Linked DNA regions of Homo sapiens: region 2 is linked to region 1. A link means that fine-mapping ties the variant in region 1 to the expression of a gene that starts in the linked region. Tissue or cell type: spleen. Region 1 holds a variant in brackets; the other region holds the start of a gene. All regions are shown on one strand. Distances are between the middles of the regions.

Evidence for each region. PIP is the estimated chance that this variant, and not a neighbour inherited with it, causes the effect.
Region 2: it holds the start of VPS28, and the variant in region 1 is fine-mapped to the expression of VPS28 in spleen (GTEx, PIP 0.93).

What each region holds. Positions count from the first base shown.
Region 1 is chr8:143,937,165-143,945,164 of GRCh38, forward strand. It overlaps PLEC (plectin), which reads right to left and starts at 2,433. Exons shown (of 32, transcript NM_201384.3): 1 at 2,186-2,433; 2 at 1,467-1,528; 3 at 987-1,076; 4 at 1-78. The coding sequence starts at 2,297. LOC124902040 (a long non-coding RNA gene) reads left to right here and starts at 6,700. Exons shown (of 2, transcript XR_007061144.1): 1 at 6,700-7,006. RefSeq lists silencers at 2,050-2,149, 2,430-2,659, 4,907-4,996, 5,217-5,676, 6,747-7,016 and enhancers at 2,170-2,409, 2,820-2,879, 3,057-3,351, 5,897-6,146. The variant A/G (reference allele first, on the strand shown) is at 3,596.
Region 2 is chr8:144,424,920-144,432,919 of GRCh38, forward strand. VPS28 (VPS28 subunit of ESCRT-I) reads right to left here and starts at 3,629. Exons shown (of 10, transcript NM_016208.4): 1 at 3,570-3,629; 2 at 1,990-2,060; 3 at 1,261-1,289; 4 at 1,107-1,144; 5 at 764-853; 6 at 27-132. The coding sequence starts at 2,026. TONSL (tonsoku like, DNA repair protein) reads right to left here. Exons shown (of 26, transcript NM_013432.5): 23 at 7,366-7,541; 24 at 6,159-6,232; 25 at 5,485-5,618; 26 at 3,856-4,417. The coding sequence ends at 4,224. RefSeq lists an enhancer at 961-1,724 and a silencer at 3,455-3,804.

The sequences.
Region 1 (8,000 bases):
CTGGCGGTGCCGGAGGTAGTCCAGGGCAATCTGGACATTCTGCAGCTTGTGGAAACGCATCCTCCCCTTCTCCCGGGGCTGTGGGGAGGCACAGTCAGCACCCACAGTGCAGCTGCAGCTCCCGGGCCCCACCCTCAGCATGCCCCAAAGCGCCGCAGCAACCGAGCCAAGGGTCTTCCCCAGGGGGCAGCAGCCCCTCATCCCAGGTTCACCCTCCCCCGCAGGGAAAGGGAGGCCACCGGCCCAGGGGCCAGGCCAGGCCCATCAGGGCTCGGGAAGTCCAGCGACCCAGGCTGAGGGAAGGAAGGAAGGGGTGGGAGGAGACAATAGCCAGGAAGCCTCGTGTGGAGGGCAGTGGCACTAAAGGGGGGGTCCTCCTGCCTGGCGGTGGCAGCCACAGCAGCCACCGGTGGGTCCCAGGCCAGCTCTGGGCAGCACGGTGGACGGGCAGCTTGACACCCAACCACCTACCCGCCCAAGAGCCAGGCAGGGGTTGGCCGACGGGCCACCAGCCCCCAGAAAGCCGGGCTCCACGGTCTTGGGGAGCTCCCGTGCCGCTGCAGCCGGCAGGCACAGCCACTCACCAGGCGTGAGCTCCTGCTTACGTCCCGCTCCCTCGGCTGCCCGGCCAGAGCAGGGCAAAGGGTAAAGGGCAGAGGTCAAGGTTCAGAGTCCAAGCAGCAGAGAAACCAAAGCAAAGCGGAGCATGAGGTTACTGTGTCCCGACGCGGAGGGCGGCAAGGCCCAGAGCAGCCGAGGTCCGAGGGTTGCGGCCACTCCCAGGCCAGGCCCTCGGCTGTGATGCCCAGCAGCCTGGGCGGGAGGTGCTGCCAGGGACGAGGCCAGCCTGCCCCCAGGGAGAAGGCAGGAGGGGTTGAGCTGGATTCCAAGTAGAGTGGGCGGCCGGAGAGGCCCCAAGGAGGGAAGGCAGGCAGAGGTCTCCAGGTGGGGCAGGCGGGGCCCGGAGGGGGCAGGGGCACACGTACCAGGCTGTCCCCCGAGAGGACCTCCAGCAGGGAGATGAGGTTGTGGCCATCGCGGAGGTCTTCATACAGGTCACTGATGTGCCTCTGGGCCTGTGGGGACAGCAGCGGCTGAGGTGGCCAGTCCCCCAGAGCCACCAATAGGCCCTGAGTGGCTGATCTACAGAGTGGGTGCTGGTCCCAGAGGGAAGGAGGCGGGGGCTGAGTCTCCCGGGAGCCCACGGAACACACCCTGCCCCACGGAGGCACCTACCTCTGCCCGCCAGTGCTGCAAGGAGAGACCAGGAAAGACCAGAAGGAAGAGGAGGAAGAGAGAGGCAGGAGCAGGCGTAGGGAAGAAAGAGGACAGAAAATAACAGGTTTCAGAGATGAAAGGTGAGCACACAGGCAGCATGGGGACAGCCTTGGGCGGCAGGGGCCACCCTCCCTCAGCGCCTCCCACAGCCTCAGCCCCTGTGACACGCACCAGCATGCGCCACCAACCTTGATGAGGTGCTTGTTGACCCACTTGGTGAAGGTTTTCTTCTGCACACGATCCCGCTCATCTGGGGGAGACAAGACCAGCTTACCTGGGGCCTGGGAGAAGCCCCGGGGGCCCTCAGGTGACCACCGTGCAGACACAGCAGCCTGGCTGGCCAGGTCCTGCCTGGGGAGCCCCAAAGCCTCCCTCAGATCACACACTGAGACCCAGGCGCCCTCACCCGCAGCCCAGCCACACAGCAGAGACCCAGGTGCCAGGGGCCCAGGCGCCACCAGGTGCAGCCACCCCACCCCGGACTCTTCCCCCGAGGAAATGGGAGGGTCCTGGGCGCACCCTGAGCCCAGGGCACACAAGTCCCGTCCTGCAGTCCCCCCCGGCCTCTACAGACTGAGACCCAAGCAGGGGTGTGGCAGAGCCAGGGCCCGGGCCCGCTGGGGTGTTGGAAGGGAAGCCGCGTGTGCTGCTGACAGGGCAGCGAACCTTCCCCAGAGCGCAGAGTTCCTCGCCCTTCCAGGCCCGACATCTGACGCTCGGAGGCCCCCGTCAGCCTCGCGGGCGCCTGTCGGCCCACTCCGTGTTGGGTGGGGATGGCTGGCCCCCGACCCCCATCTCCAAGACCAGCCCCCCAGCGGTGCCAAGGCTTTCCTGCCACAGGAAGTGGGCCTTCCTCCCGCAGGGGCCCGCCCTGCCTGGCGGGGGTGCCCGAGGGGAGCCCTGCTACCTTTCTTGCCCTCAGAGGCCCTGAGCACAGCCAGGTACAGGTTGTCCTCCGAGCTGGTTCTCTTTCGGCCCAGGCCCTCGGGCTGCGGCACGCGGAGCTGGTGCTGAGACATGCTGCCCCCACACCTTCGTCGCCCGGACCCTCGGCCTCAGGCACGGTGCTCTGGGCAGCCCCGTGTGGCACACAGGCAGCTGAAGGCTGGCGGCCCCACGAGACGCTCACTCGGCACAGGCTCAGCTCAGAGCCCCAGTCGGTGCGGCCACTCCCTGCCTGCTGTACTCCCCGGCGAGGCCGGCCCGCCCCCGAGGCCCCACCCTGCCCAGGCCGCCGCCAGGGAGGGGAGTGTCCCGGCGGGAAGGAGCAAGCAGCCCCCTCCCCCACAGACACGCCCTCGGCCCGCCAGAAACAGGAAACCGGGGTTTCCTCACCCACCCCGACCACTGCAGCCCCCTAGGGGGACCTGGGGACACGGGGAGCTGGCACTTCACTGCACACCAAATGGTGCCAGGACCGCAGAGGAACACAGGCCGTCCCCACAGCCACCCAGAAGGACCCCCCAACAGACTGAAGGGCTCCCCCGACGGGAGGGGCTCTGAGGCCACGCCTCTCTTTGGAGCTCCCTCCAGGCCTGGGCCAGGCCCTGCTTCAGCCTCTGCCCACCCACCCTGCCAGGGCGGACTCAAGAAGCCGCTGATACCTGGCGAGGGGAGGGGACCTGCTGCCTGTCAGCTCTTGCAGCCCCCCAATCACACCTCTTCACAGACCTGCATGAAGCGGGGAGCACACCCTGCCCCATGGTGCCTGCCCTGGCCCTGGGGCCAGTGGGGTCCCACCCCAGGCCTGGCCCCTCCCAAGCTGCCCACCTGGCACATCCTGGAGCAGTGCCCACCTGCGGAGCCCACCCTGCCCCAGGCAGACACCTCACGTCGGAGGCGCGTAGCTGAGGGCTGACTCACGGAGGCCGGGCCTCATGGGGGAATGGAGCATCGGGAAGCCCCAGGAGGGGCCTCGCCAGTGAGTCAGGGATGGGGAGGGGGCCCAAGCCTGTGACTCACAGAGGGGAAGCCACACCTGAGGCAGGACCTGGGCGACCCCAGGGGTGGGGGGTGCTGTTTGCAGCTGGGTGGGGCTCAAGGGAAGCAGTCTCATGCTGTAAAGGGCAAAGGGCAAAGGGCCTGCGCTGGCTGGGGCCTCCGGCTCCCTGGGGTCCGGGGCGGAGCTGCCTCTGGCCAGCTTCTGGGCCTGCCCAGCCCACCCGACCACCATAGGAAAGAATGCGCTGCCCCAACCACAAGAATGTTCCAGCCGCACATCAGGCAGATTCGGTCCAGCTGGGAGCTGCACTCGGCCTCAGTTCTGGGAAGAGCTCACCCCACCTCATTCCTACTGCCCCTGAGGCCGTGAGGGGGC[A/G]CCAGAACCCTCACAATGGGGGGTGCCCAAACCCCTCAGAGGTGGGGAAGCCCCCACTCCACGCCAAGGGGCACAGCCAGCCCCTAGGGCTCTGCCACATCGTACACGCCGCCCAACGAAGACACCCCTTGGTCTCCATGCATGGTCTCTGAGCCTGGCATGAGATTCAGGGTGACCCTCTTGCTCTGCCTGTCCGGCCCAGCAGCCTCCAGAACCTCAGGAGTCACCAGAAGCCCCCAAATCAAAATCTGACCCCGCACTGGTCAGCACCTCCAGTCTTGTGCCCAAGGGCACCCCGGACCCCACACCTCTGCCGCCCCTCCCTGGGTCCAAAGCCTCTGGAAACACTGTCGCCTCTTCAGAAGCCCTGGGCCAGCAGCTACCCTGAGGCCAAGCCCCGCGCCTGCTGGGTATGGGCTCTGGGGGCCCGGCCGTGACCAGGTGGCTCCTGCCTGCAGGAACGGGGCTGCCACTCTGCTGAGGCACAGTGTGAGATCCCGGAACAGCCAGGGAGGTGGGCACAGGGAGTCCACGACAGCTGGAAACTGGGAGCCGGGGCCAAGGTCCAGGACCCACGTGGAGCCCACCCCAGCCAGGCCCCTGTTCCAGCCTTCTCCCTGCCACTAACAGGCCTCCAAAGATGCCGCCCTGGGCCGGGCCAGGGTCAGGAATGGGGCAGGGGCTCAGGGAAGGGAAGGGGCACGGTGGGGACTCCAGACACGGACTCGGGCAAGGCTGGGACCGGGTGAGGAGAAGGGCTGGGGCGGGGCAGGGCTGGGACCAGGTGGGCTGGGGGCTCGGTCAGGGGCCTCCACCTCCCAAGCCTGGCTCAAGCTCCCCTTCCCTACTTCCTGCCTCTGGGTGCCTCTTTGCTCTGAGCTCTTCCCTCCTCATCACCTCCCCTCCCTCCCAGCCCAGCCTGCCCCGCCCCATCCAATCCTATTCTGACCCTAAAACCAACAGACACACCCGCCCCACCCAGCCAGGCTACACCCACCCTCTACAGCTGCAGCTCAGCTGGCTCTCCCACCTGGGACGCACCCAGAACACCCCCAGCTCAGGTGCCTCTGCACACCTGCCTGACACCTGTGCTGTCCAGGGCTGCTGACCCTCGGCCGCCAGCCCAGGGTCCCTCACGACAGGCACTGCCGTGGCCCTCTGAGGAGTATCGCCCCCGTTTTACAGGTGTGGACCCTATGGCTGAGGTCCCGCAGCTAGTGGAGACGGTCCTAGGATGGAAACCCCAAGACTGGGAAGGGAATCCCACTGGCCCAGGACTGCAGCAAGTCCACAGAAGGCCTGGAGCCCCGCCTTCAGCACCTCCTCCCTCCCCCGTGTCCTGGAAACCCAGGCCAAAGCCCAGGCTGACGTGGAACAGCCGGGGGTGGGCCAGCCCCGCCCCCTCCAGCCCCGCCCCCTCCAGCCCCTTCTCTAGAGACAAACAAATGGGGGTAGGGGAACATCACCCCGCCTTCCTCCCCAGGTGTTTCCGGAGCTCGGGGGCAAGGCTGCACCGGGCCAAGGCGCCACCCCCATCCCAGCCCAGGCGGCGGTTCCCAGCAGAGACCCAGCCCCACTAGGTGAGAGCGATGGTGGCCCCTTCTGTGCCACCGGCCACGCCACTGCACCCACCTACGCAGCACAGCTGCTGGTAGAGGTAGCCCCTGCGGGCCGGCTCGCAGCCCCCGTCCAGCCAGCACGGCCGCTCCAGCAAGACCTCCCTCGGCGAGGCAAAGGCGCCCCCCGCCCCCGACATGCCGGCCACGGCCGGAGCCCTGGTTCGGCCCACGGACAGTGCGGGGAGCTGGACCGCGGCGGCGCCTCTGCTTCCAGCCCACGCTGCGAGGCTGCCGGCTTCGCTCTCCACCTCTTCCACCTCCCCCCCACAATCCGCCCACTGCGGGAGCGAGGCCCAGACCCAAAGAACCTGCCCCTGGCGCGCAGCCCCGCCCAGCGCAGCCAGGAAGCCGCGCCCCAACCCACGGGCCGGGCTGGGAGGCTGCCCTGGGACTGAAGCGGCATGGGAGGGGGCCTCCCAGCAGGATGTGCGGTGGGGACTGCAGGGCCCAGGGAGGAAGGCAGGGCATGGGGCCAGGTGGTGGGCAGACAACGCTGGAGGCAGAACCGAGGAGCTGAGCCGCGTCTGGCACCACCAGGGAGTAGAGGCATCCTGTGAGCCAGGACCGTGGCCGAAGGGGGCAATTGTGGGCTGAGGTGGGGAGGCAGGGACAGTGTCTGGTCCCCAGCCAAAAACATGGATGGGGAAGAAGCCCTCAGCCCAAGTCCCATCCTGGCAGCTGAGTCCCCGGCAGCTCCGGGCGTCCCCAGCGCCACGCCTAGAAGCCCCATCTTGACTCATCTCAAGTCCGGGGATCCAGCAGAGGAGCTGAGCCAGGCAGCGCCCTCACTGCAGGAGAGGTCTGGCCAGCCAGGTCCCCGATAGGCAGTCCCTCTGGCCAGAAGCCCATAATTGAGGCTGCCCAATCCCCAGGGCCCCGCCCCATCCTGTGCTGGGCACGGTTGCCACCTGGGACCACAGCCCAGGAGCTGGTGACTTTGAGCAGGGAGGGCAGGGCACAGCCTGGCTGCCCCCGCCCCCTGTGCGGCCCGAGGGCATGAGGGCACCTGCCTCACCTGCGTGTGGCTCCACCCCCTGCTGTGTGTGCAGGGAGCCACCTCCACCTCAGTGCTGGCCGGACAGGCACCTGCCCACTTGTCCCTGCCACGGCGGCTGCCACAGGCCTCCCTTCGTGTGGGGGACGCTCCTGCCCTGCCGGCCTCCGCTTCCACCCACCTGTCCCGCACAGGCTGCAGGCTGAGGGCCACTGCAGAGCCCGCCCCGCCCTGGGACTGCAGCAGGGTCAGGGTCTACACTGCAGGGTGGGGTGGAGGGGCAACACTGCTTTCACTGACATTCAGCTTGGAAACAGGAAGGGGAGGGCGCAGGGAATGAAGGGGCGGGAGGCAGGCGGCCCCTCTGCCCCGCCTCGAGTCCCTGGCAGCCACCAGCGGGGCTTACCTTGCTCGTCCTGCGCCCACCGACGTCCCCTGCGCCAGTGCCACACAGCGGCCAGGGTGACAACGTGACCCACAACCACCAGGGAGGGAAACAGGCTGCCCGAGGGCTCCATAGCCGCCACGCGGAGCCGCCAGGGCTGCCCTTCCTGCGCTGGGAACCGGCTGCTCCAGGCTAGACAGCCCCCTCCCTGCGTGCAGGGCGAGCGAGGGGGAGCGCCGGGACCGGAGCCTGCCCTGCCCGCAGGACCGCCCCATACGCGGCGGCAGCCCCACAACAGCTCCCGCCCGCCTCCTCTCCTCCTCCCTCCGCGGGTCCGGCCCTCGGCGCCTCCCCACCCTCGCTCCCCACCCGGCCGGCTCAGCTGTCCCTGCGCAGGGCTACTGACGCTCAAGGTTAGTTGGCCTTAACCCCTGCGTCCCCGCGGCCACACCCGCCGGGAGGAGGGGCCAGCCGCACGCCTGGCCAAGCCGCAGCCCCCCAGCACTGCCCGCGGCCTCGGCACACACCCTCCCTCCCTCCCAGCCTCCCCCTGCTGTCCCCACCAGAAGAGGGGCCCGAGCAGCCCACTCTGCCTCCAAGGCTGCCCTCTGGGGACAGCTGGCAGGCATGGAGGGATGCCAGAGCCCCCACCTCAAGCCTGCAGCTGAACCCACTGCACTCCTTCAACTTCGCCCTCCTCACCAGCCCCAACACCCCAAAAGTGAGACTGCAGACCAGGGCTGAGGGGGTCTGGGTGAGGGCACATGAGGCAGGCTGTGTGCAGGGCGAGGGACAGCGCCCCTGGCCTCCAGCCTCAGCCCCAGCCCTCTGGCCCCTGTCCCCAGCAAGGGGCCAGGATTTCACAAGGCTTTCAAGGGCTGCCCACCTACCGGGCACGATCTTCATCGGGGACGGTGGCAGGAGCCCACGGGGCAGACGGAGCGGGCCAGGGGTGTGGGAGGTCACAGGCCCCTCGGAGGAGGCACAAGCCACTGGCGGCAGCGTCGGGTGGGAGGAGGGCACGGCCGTGCTGCTGTCAGCAGCAGCTTGTGGGGGAGGGGAGCAGTGGGCAGGGGCCCAGGGGATATAAATATCCGAGGAGGGCGCGCAAGGACCGTCACCACCCAGACTTGGAACATGACGCACGGCGCCAGGGCACCCAGGCCCCGCTGCAGTCAGGTCTGGCTGGACGGTGCCACCCGACACCTCGGTCCCCCAGCTCCCACAGGGGGTTCTAATATAATAGAGCAGGGCGCGGGAGGTGCGGGCTCACGTCCCTGCAGGAGGCGGTGCAGTCCCCACCCACCTGCCCTGCCAAGCCAGGGGGTGCTCTTGGAAAGGCCACAGGGGCCAAGAGAAGAGGCCGCCCATTCTCCCAGAGGGCCCTGCGCAGGTCACTCAACACAG
Region 2 (8,000 bases), 490 kb after region 1:
TGGGGGTGGAAGGACCAGGCACTCACGCGGAACTTGCGGCAGAATTCGTCAATAGAGCTGATTTCTGAGCCCTGGACCTGCCTGAAGGCAGCTTTGTATTGGACCAGGAGCCGGGAGCAGGCTGCAGTGTACCTAGGGAGAGGTCAGCTGCTGCCCAAGCATGGGACCAGCCCCACCCAGCTCATCCTACCCCCTCGGCTGGTCCAGAGGCAAAGCAGCTTCCAGAGAGGACCAGGCGACAGGCAAAGGCAGGCCGAGCAAGGAGGAGGGGCTGCTAGTAGCTTTTGGGGGTGAGGCCCTGAGCACGTAGTGGGGCTTGTAGCTCGGCTCCAGGTGGAGACCCCGGCCCCCAACCCCTGCCCACCCTCTGAACCACAGCGACCAGCCCTCTGTTGTGATGGCCGCATCCACAGCTCATGGTCCTGTGCGGTGGCCTGTGACGGTCTTGTCACTTCATTGAACAAAGCCCCCCCAAAAGATCCTGGGACATCCCCAAGCCTCTCGACCGTTTTTTAAGGTTGCCTGTGCTGGGGGATGAGGGTGGGGGAGTGGGCCGGATGACACCCCAGGAGCTGCGCCTCTGCCCGCCTCCCTCACCAGCCCCCAGGACTTCCCTGGCTGAGACCCAGGGGCACCCTCCTCACGCTGGGTGGGCCCCACACAAGTGGGTGCCTCCCAGCCTGACAGACGCCTGCTCTTGCTGCCTATGGAGCACCCAAGCCCCCCAGGGCAGGAACAGACCTCCCAGGACGTGGGCTCTTACTCGCTGGGGGAGACACAGTCCTTGATGTAGGCCTTCTCCAGGGCTTGCATTGTCTTCACCACCGCAAACAGCTCTGCCATGTTGTCGTACCTGAGGACACACCTGTCTATCGGGCCAGGCCCCGGGGTGCCAAGCCTAGAGCCCAGAGTGCTACCCCCTGCCCGGAGGTGCCACTGCGGGCGCTCTGCCCACCTCTTGCTCCATCCTGGAGTGCCTCAGGAACAGTTCCCCAGACTGACCCTGCGTCCTCCCACCCCTCAGTTTGGGGTGGGTCTGGAGGGGCTGCCCCAGGGCAGCCAGATGCGCATGGGTGTGTTGGGACAGCCTGGGCGCCTGGACTTACTTCTCCCTCTCCCGGGCGTTCTTGTACAACTTCACTTCCTGCCGGAGAGAGCGGGCTCTGTGGGCCAGTGCCAACAGGGGCTGCAGGACCCTGGTGAGGCCACACAGGCATTTGCTGTTGGCCAATGCCGGCCGGGTGGGCACCCACCACTCACCTCATACAGCTCCGGCTTGTTCCCAGGGGCTGCAAGAGAAGGCAGAGAGCTGGCAGGCTGGCCCCAAAGGGAACCCAAGGGCAGACTCCAGTCCCAGTCTCCATTTCAGTTCCTCCCTGAGGCCTCCCAGGCTGGGTCCCAAAGAGCCCAGAGGGAGCTGGAGCACAGAGGTTCCAACCTCACCCCTATCAGTGTGTGGGGGGACCTGATGATAACACCTCTGAGAAGCCGGGGGCCGCATGACAGGCCCAGCTCCCCAGCTCCACTGCGGCTCCCCGGGGGACCGCATGACAGGCCCAGCTCCCCAGCTCCACTGCGGCTCCCCGGGGGACCGCATGACAGGCCCAGCTCCCCAGCTCCACCATGGCTCCCTGGCGGAGTCACCTGCACAACAGTGGCCACGCCCTGCTCGTGGCTCATGATGCAGTGCCAACAAGGCTCACCACACACAGCCTCTCCCCTGGGATTGGTGACACAGGGTGCCCAGGACCCCCACCGTTCTGGCCACACCGAAGCTCATCATCTCTGCCCAGCAGGACCAAGCCAGTTCTGTCTGGAGGTTTCTGAGCCCTCAGTGCTCCTGCAATGAACTATTTAGCCCCTGGCCACCCCCAAGGCTGTACGAGAGCAGGGTCAGATACCTCCCCACCCCCGATCCCCAATACCCAATACTGCCCGTCAGCCCCTGCAGAAGCGGCTGAAAGCCTGCGCCCTTCCAGCCACACTCACCTCCTATGCCCGGCGTGGCTGGGATCCCATGAAACATCCTCTAGGCTCTGGGGGGGGCACAGCACTGAGACCTGGGGAGCAGAGCCAGGGCCGACTCAAAGATGGCCCCTAAGCCAGGCGCTGGCTCACACCTGTAATCCCAGCACTTTGGGAGGCCGAGGTGAGCGGATCACCTGAGGTCAGGAGTTTGAGACCAGCCTGGCCAACATGGTGAAACCCTGTCTCTACTAAAATTACAAAATTAGCCGGACGTTGTGGCATACGGTTGTAATCCCAGCTACTCAGGAGGCTGAGGCAGGAGAATCGCTTGAACCCAGGAGGTGAAGGTTTCAATGAGCCAAGACCGAGCCACTGCACTCCAGCCTGGGAGACAGAGCAAGACCCTGTCTCAAAACAAACAAACGAACAACAAAAAAAACCGACAAAAAAAGACAGCCCGTAAGTGCCAGGTCCTGGAGACCCAGGGCTCCATGAAGAGCTCTCCTAAGCTCAATAATGGTGAACACACAGGGTGCTATAGGGGCTACCAGAAAAAGTGAGGTACTATGGACACTCAGGAGAGCGGGGCGGGGGCTGCAGTGGAGTGTGGTTCAAGCTGGAGGTTGAGGGAGGTTATGAGGGCGGCAGGCAGCTGTTTGATGGCCCACGAGGAGAGTTTGGGGCACAGGAAACAACACACTTAACAGCCCGCCTTTAAGTAGGCATGAACTTGGAGGAACCAACAAGCTGAAGGTGCAGCTTCTCGAAAGAGGGGGTCCTAGGGAATGAAGATGGAGAGGTGCCCCTAGTTGGGCAGCGAGCTGTGGAGAAACAATGGGAGCGGGGCCCGTGGGAGGGTCCTGCCTAGCACGGAAGCTGGGCCAGCTCCAGACGTTCTCTCTTTGAAAGTGGAGCCGTCAGATCCGCCGAGGGATTTGAGATAGGATTAAAATAAAGGAGTTACGAACGACACCCCTGTTTTTGGCCCAATGGGCCGGGCAGTAAGATAAACTCAGACGGAGAGGGGAGGAGGAGCGGGCCTGGCGGGCAGGCGCAGGAAGCTCTCGGTGGAGAGGCCCGGGAGAGCAGCGCTGAGCCGGCTAACTGGGAGTGGACGGTGCTACCGGGGATGGGAGAAGAGCAGAAGTGAGGGAAGGCCGCCCGCGCCGAAGCCCTGGGGCGCCCCAGCCGAGGAAGAGCCGGGAAAGGGCGTCGCCGCTCATGTAGGTAGGGAACGTCTGGGTCAAGCTCTCCGAGGGTCGAGGCCATTGCGAGCCGCGGGGTGGGGACCGAGGCTGCTCGGCAGCCGTCACGGAGCCGCCAGGCAGGAGAGCGCCGAGGAGCCAACCGCCCCAACCACGCAGGAGCTTCTGCCTAACAGCGAAAGCGGACGTTCTGCGGCCACAAGCAAATGTGCAAAACAACCTCGCAGAGTGGACAACGAGCAAGGAAAGCCAGTTTCTAGAACATGCCAATAACGTGACTTTTGCGGCGCTCAGCCGAAGCTGTGCCGGGGCCTAGGCGCGCCCAGAGGGTGCCAGGCCCTGAGTCGCCTCTCCCCACTCTGCCCCTTCCCCGCCCACCGGCCGGGCCCCGGGTACCTGGACGGCTCGCGGTCGGGAAGATGGCGCCGGGGGCGGGGTGCGCTCGGTCAGCGACTCGGCATTCGCCCCTCATGTCTGCGCCTGCGCGCGTCGGGGCGACCCCCCGCCCCTCCGTCCCCATCGGCAGCTCGGCGCTCAGCCCTCACGCCTGCGCCCGCGCCCGCCCGGACTTCGGGACATTCCCTCCAGCCGCGCAGCCCCCGGGACGTAACCGGCGCAGCAGACTCGAAGCCCGGTCTTACCCCGCCCACCCGCCTGCCAGGCAGCCACGGGGAGGGAGGCAGCAGCTTCATTTATTTTATTTTTTTTTTTTTTTGAGACGGAGTCTCGGTCTGTCGCCCAGGCTGGAGTGCAGTGGTGCGATCTCGGCTCACTGCAAGCTCCGCCTCCCGGGTTCACGCCATTCTCCTGCCTCAGCCTCCGGAGTAGCTGGGACTACAGGCTTCCACCACCACGCCCGGCTAATTTTTGGTATTTTTAGTAGAGACGGGGTTTCACCATGTTAGCCAGGATGGTCTCGATCTCCTGACCTCGTGATCCGCCCGCCTGGGCCTCCCAAAGTGTTGGGATTACAGGCGTGAGCCACCGCGCCCGGCCAGCAGCTTCATTTATTAGGGGCTTCGGTGAGGGTGGGGAAAGGCAGCGCCAGGGTCAGAGGCGCCGAAAGAAGAGCTTGGAGCCGTGGTCCAGCGTGCACTCGCCGGGGCCCGGCCGACTGGGCTGCAGCTGGCGCAGGGCGTCCCTGTCCTCAGCGCAGAGGCGTCTGCTGCACAGCTGCAGTTCCCGGAGCTGCGCGGCTATCTTGTCCCACAGGCCCAGGCCCAGGGGACCCTGGACGGCGCAGCCTGCGGAGGGGAAGAGGGCAGACCTCAGCGCTGCGGGGGCCGGCGGCGTCCTGGTGCCCGCGGCAGGCTCCAGGGAACAAACTCGCTTTCGCTGAGGGCCCCAGGGCTGTAGCGAGGGGCAGTGGGCAGAGCTCCGGAGAGGCCCCATGACTCTCCAGGAAGGGGTGGGATCATCTGCACAGCCAGCGGTCAGACAGGAGGAAGGGTGGCTCCCTTCTTTACCTCTGACAGTGCCCGATCTCAAAGTCCATGCCTACACGTCAGTCTCCCCACCCATAAGAAGGACATAATGGATCTGCTTGCAAATCTGTACATCGTGGGCCTGAGTGGATCAAGAGAACACTAAGCTCAGGAATTCAGGGAGCTGGGTGGGAAGGTACAGATGCCAGGAACTGAGGTGTGGGGAAGGGGTCTCACACCAGCACTCGGGGGCCTTCCTGGAAAAGGCGGCCTGGCCCTGGGAGGTGAAGGGGAGGGGGCACAGGAAGAAAGCAGAGCCCCGCTTCGTGCACATTCACTTAAGCCCTCATCCCCTGGAGGGCACAGCCTGCCCCGGCCCCAGTGGGGCAAGCCAGGTCATCAAAGCCCTTCCTGGGGTTGTCTTCCAGACAGCTCAGGTTGGGGACTGCCCTGATGTGGCTCAAGAGAGAACAAGCTAAATCAGACCACAGCCCTGGGCAGGGTTGTGTCAGAGGAGCCCCTGCCAGGAAGTAGGAGGGTCCCTTGGCAGCTTTCAACACCCTGACCTTGGGATCCCTTTTCCTGCCAGGGACAAGAAGAAAGTCCCTGTGGAACAGGGTCTTGCCTACCATAGTCTGCTCTGAAGGTTGGGTTGGAGAGACCAGAGGCAGATACCCACCTCGCCCCCTAACCCATGGTTTTAGGAGCTGGGATCATGCCCCTTTTCTGTCACTGTCACTCTGCCCCCTGCTGCCCCAGCCTCATGGAGCCCAGCCTTGCTGCCTGGCTGGTAGCAGTGACAGCCCCTTAGGAGGAGGCACCTGGGTCTCAGGCAGGTCCCTGAAAAGGCCGAACATGGCAGGCGTGGCCACCATACCAGCACTCACCTGACAGGCCAAGGAAGCTAAGGCCTTGGGGCCGCTTTTGGAGGGTGGACAGGAGCTCTTCCAAGCTGGCACAGCTGATCTCAGGGTTGGCAGACAGATCCAGTGAGATGAGTGAGGGGCACAGAGAGAGACATCTGAGATAACATGGGAAGAAGTGCAAAGGTTGGCTTCCAGAGAGGCTGTGCCCCAACACTAGGAAAGCTGCCCAGACAAATGCCAGCTCAGGGAGCCTCGGGCCAGACCCAGGGGCTCTGCCTCAGCCTGGCCCAGTAGCAGGTGGCCCTCTAGGGTTGGGGGTCCTTCCCAGGGGTCAGGGCCACAGTGGCCAGCTCTGGGTGTGCCTGGCCCAGCTTGGGCTCCTCTCAACACTCCCCAGAGAGCTGACTGAGGCTCCAGGTCATAAGAGCAGTGCCCTCATGTGGGCCGAGGCACAGGAATGACAAGGACACCCCCGGAGGAGTGCTCTCAAGAGCCACAGGCCCATGCTAAGAAAGAAGCCAGAGGGTAGTCTGCCTTCCAGGGCAGCCTGAGAGGCTGGTGGAAACCGAAGGAGCCAGGTCTTGGGATGTGCTGGGGAGGAGGAGCTGGTACCATTTCTGTGGCCCTTCTCCCATAGGGTCCAGAGCCATGAGATCAGACCCCCAGGTCAGCAGGCAGCAGGGAAAGGGCGTTACCTGCACAGGTCTCTAACAGCCTTGTCCCCCAGGTGGTTTGCAGACAGGGTCAGGTGGGCTAGAGCACAGCCTTCCTGGACATGAGCAGAGGCCCAAGGGGGCCAAACGGAGTGGCGCACCTGCCCTGCCTGCTTCCCAGCAGGTGCACCACACCCAGGGGCCCAGAAGGGAGCAGAGTCCCCCATCAAGTTGGAGATCGGAAGGAAACACCTCTCCTGATGTGGGTCACACTCTGCACGTGATAGTGTGAAAATAATAGGGTCCCAGTTGTGCCTGGAAGACCCCCCAGGAGAGAGCATCAGGGGCCCTAGTGTGCCCCTTGGGACCTTCCTGGCGGGGGGCAAGATCACCCTGAGTCCCGGGTCCTATCTGGTGGGCAGGAATTCACAGCCTGAGACAGGCAGCTGTACAAAAGCATTCCCCCAGCTGTTTTTTTCTTTTTTTGTTTTTTTTTTGAGACAGAGTCTCGCTCTGTCGCCCAGGGTGGAGTGCGGTGGCGCCATCTCGGCTCACTGCAAGCTCCGCCTCCCGGGTTCACGCTGTTCTCCTGCCTGTCTCCCAAGTAGCTGGGACTCCAGGAGCCCGTCACCACGCCCGGCTAATTTTTTGTATTTTTTAGTAGAGATGGTGTTTCACCATGTTAGCCAGGATGGTCTTGATCTCCTGACCTCGTGATCCGCCCGCCTCGGCCTCCCAAAGTGCTGGGATTACAGGCGTAAGCTACCACGCCCAGCCTGTTTTTTTCTTTTTCTTTCTTTTTTTTTTTTTTTGAGACGGAATCTCGCTCTGTCACCCAGGCTGGGTGCAATGGTGCAATCTAGGCTCACTGCAACCTCTGCCTCCCGGGTTCAACCAATTCTCTGCCTCAGCATCCCGAGTAGCTGGGATTACAGGTACCCGCCACCACGCCTGGGTAATTTTTGTATTTTTACTAGAGACAAGGTTTCACCATGTTGGCCAGGCTGCTTTTGAACTCCTGACCTTGTGATCCACCCCCTTCGGCCTCCCAAAGTACTGGGATTACAGGCGTGAGCCACCGCGCCTGGCCCCCCAGCTGTTTTTTCTAAACCTCCAAACCTCTAACTCTCTCTGTAGAGCCCCTCAGCGAGTTCAGCCCGAATCTGGGGAGAGGCGAGCTCCTCCCAGCAACCCTGGGACCTTTGGCCTCTGAGGCTCAGTATTTTCTGGGTTCTTCCCCACCTCGTACCTTGGCCAGGTATCGGAATACAGGCTCCATGAGGTCCGAATCACCCTTGCCGGCTGCCACGGAGCTGAGCTCTAAGTGCAGGAGGGTGCCGGCGGGCAGGCTCTGCAGGGTCCTGGCCAGGGCAGGGGCTCCCAGGGCGTTGTAGGACAGGGACAGGGTCTTCAGGTGCTCAGCATCTGCACCGGGGCCAGAATCCGTCAGCCCCACGTGGCCACAGCCCTGTACCCACCCCAAGTTCTGGGCCCAGAACCCTCAGGACCCCTTTGGGGAAACCACTACCGCAGTGCTCGCAGGGTGGGGTGGCAAGTGCAGAGGCAAAGGCTCTCGCCCAGATTCTCCCAGCTGGGAGGGCGGGGCCAGACTTCCAAGCTCGGCTGCCCCCAGTTCTGGACAACTTGCCCTCTCCCACCCCACAACCACACGGTCCTGGGCCACATGCCTCTGCACAGTGGGGGTGCCAGGGGAGTGCACTGACCATTGCTGCCCCCCTTACACTCCCCCTGGATGACACCCAATTCCCAGCCTCTTGGCACTGGGACCCCAGTCTCTGCAGCCTGAGTGGGCTCACAGTGGAACTGCCTCAGGCGAACAGCACTCAGCTGGCGAGCACGGGATGGGGACCACAGGACACTAGC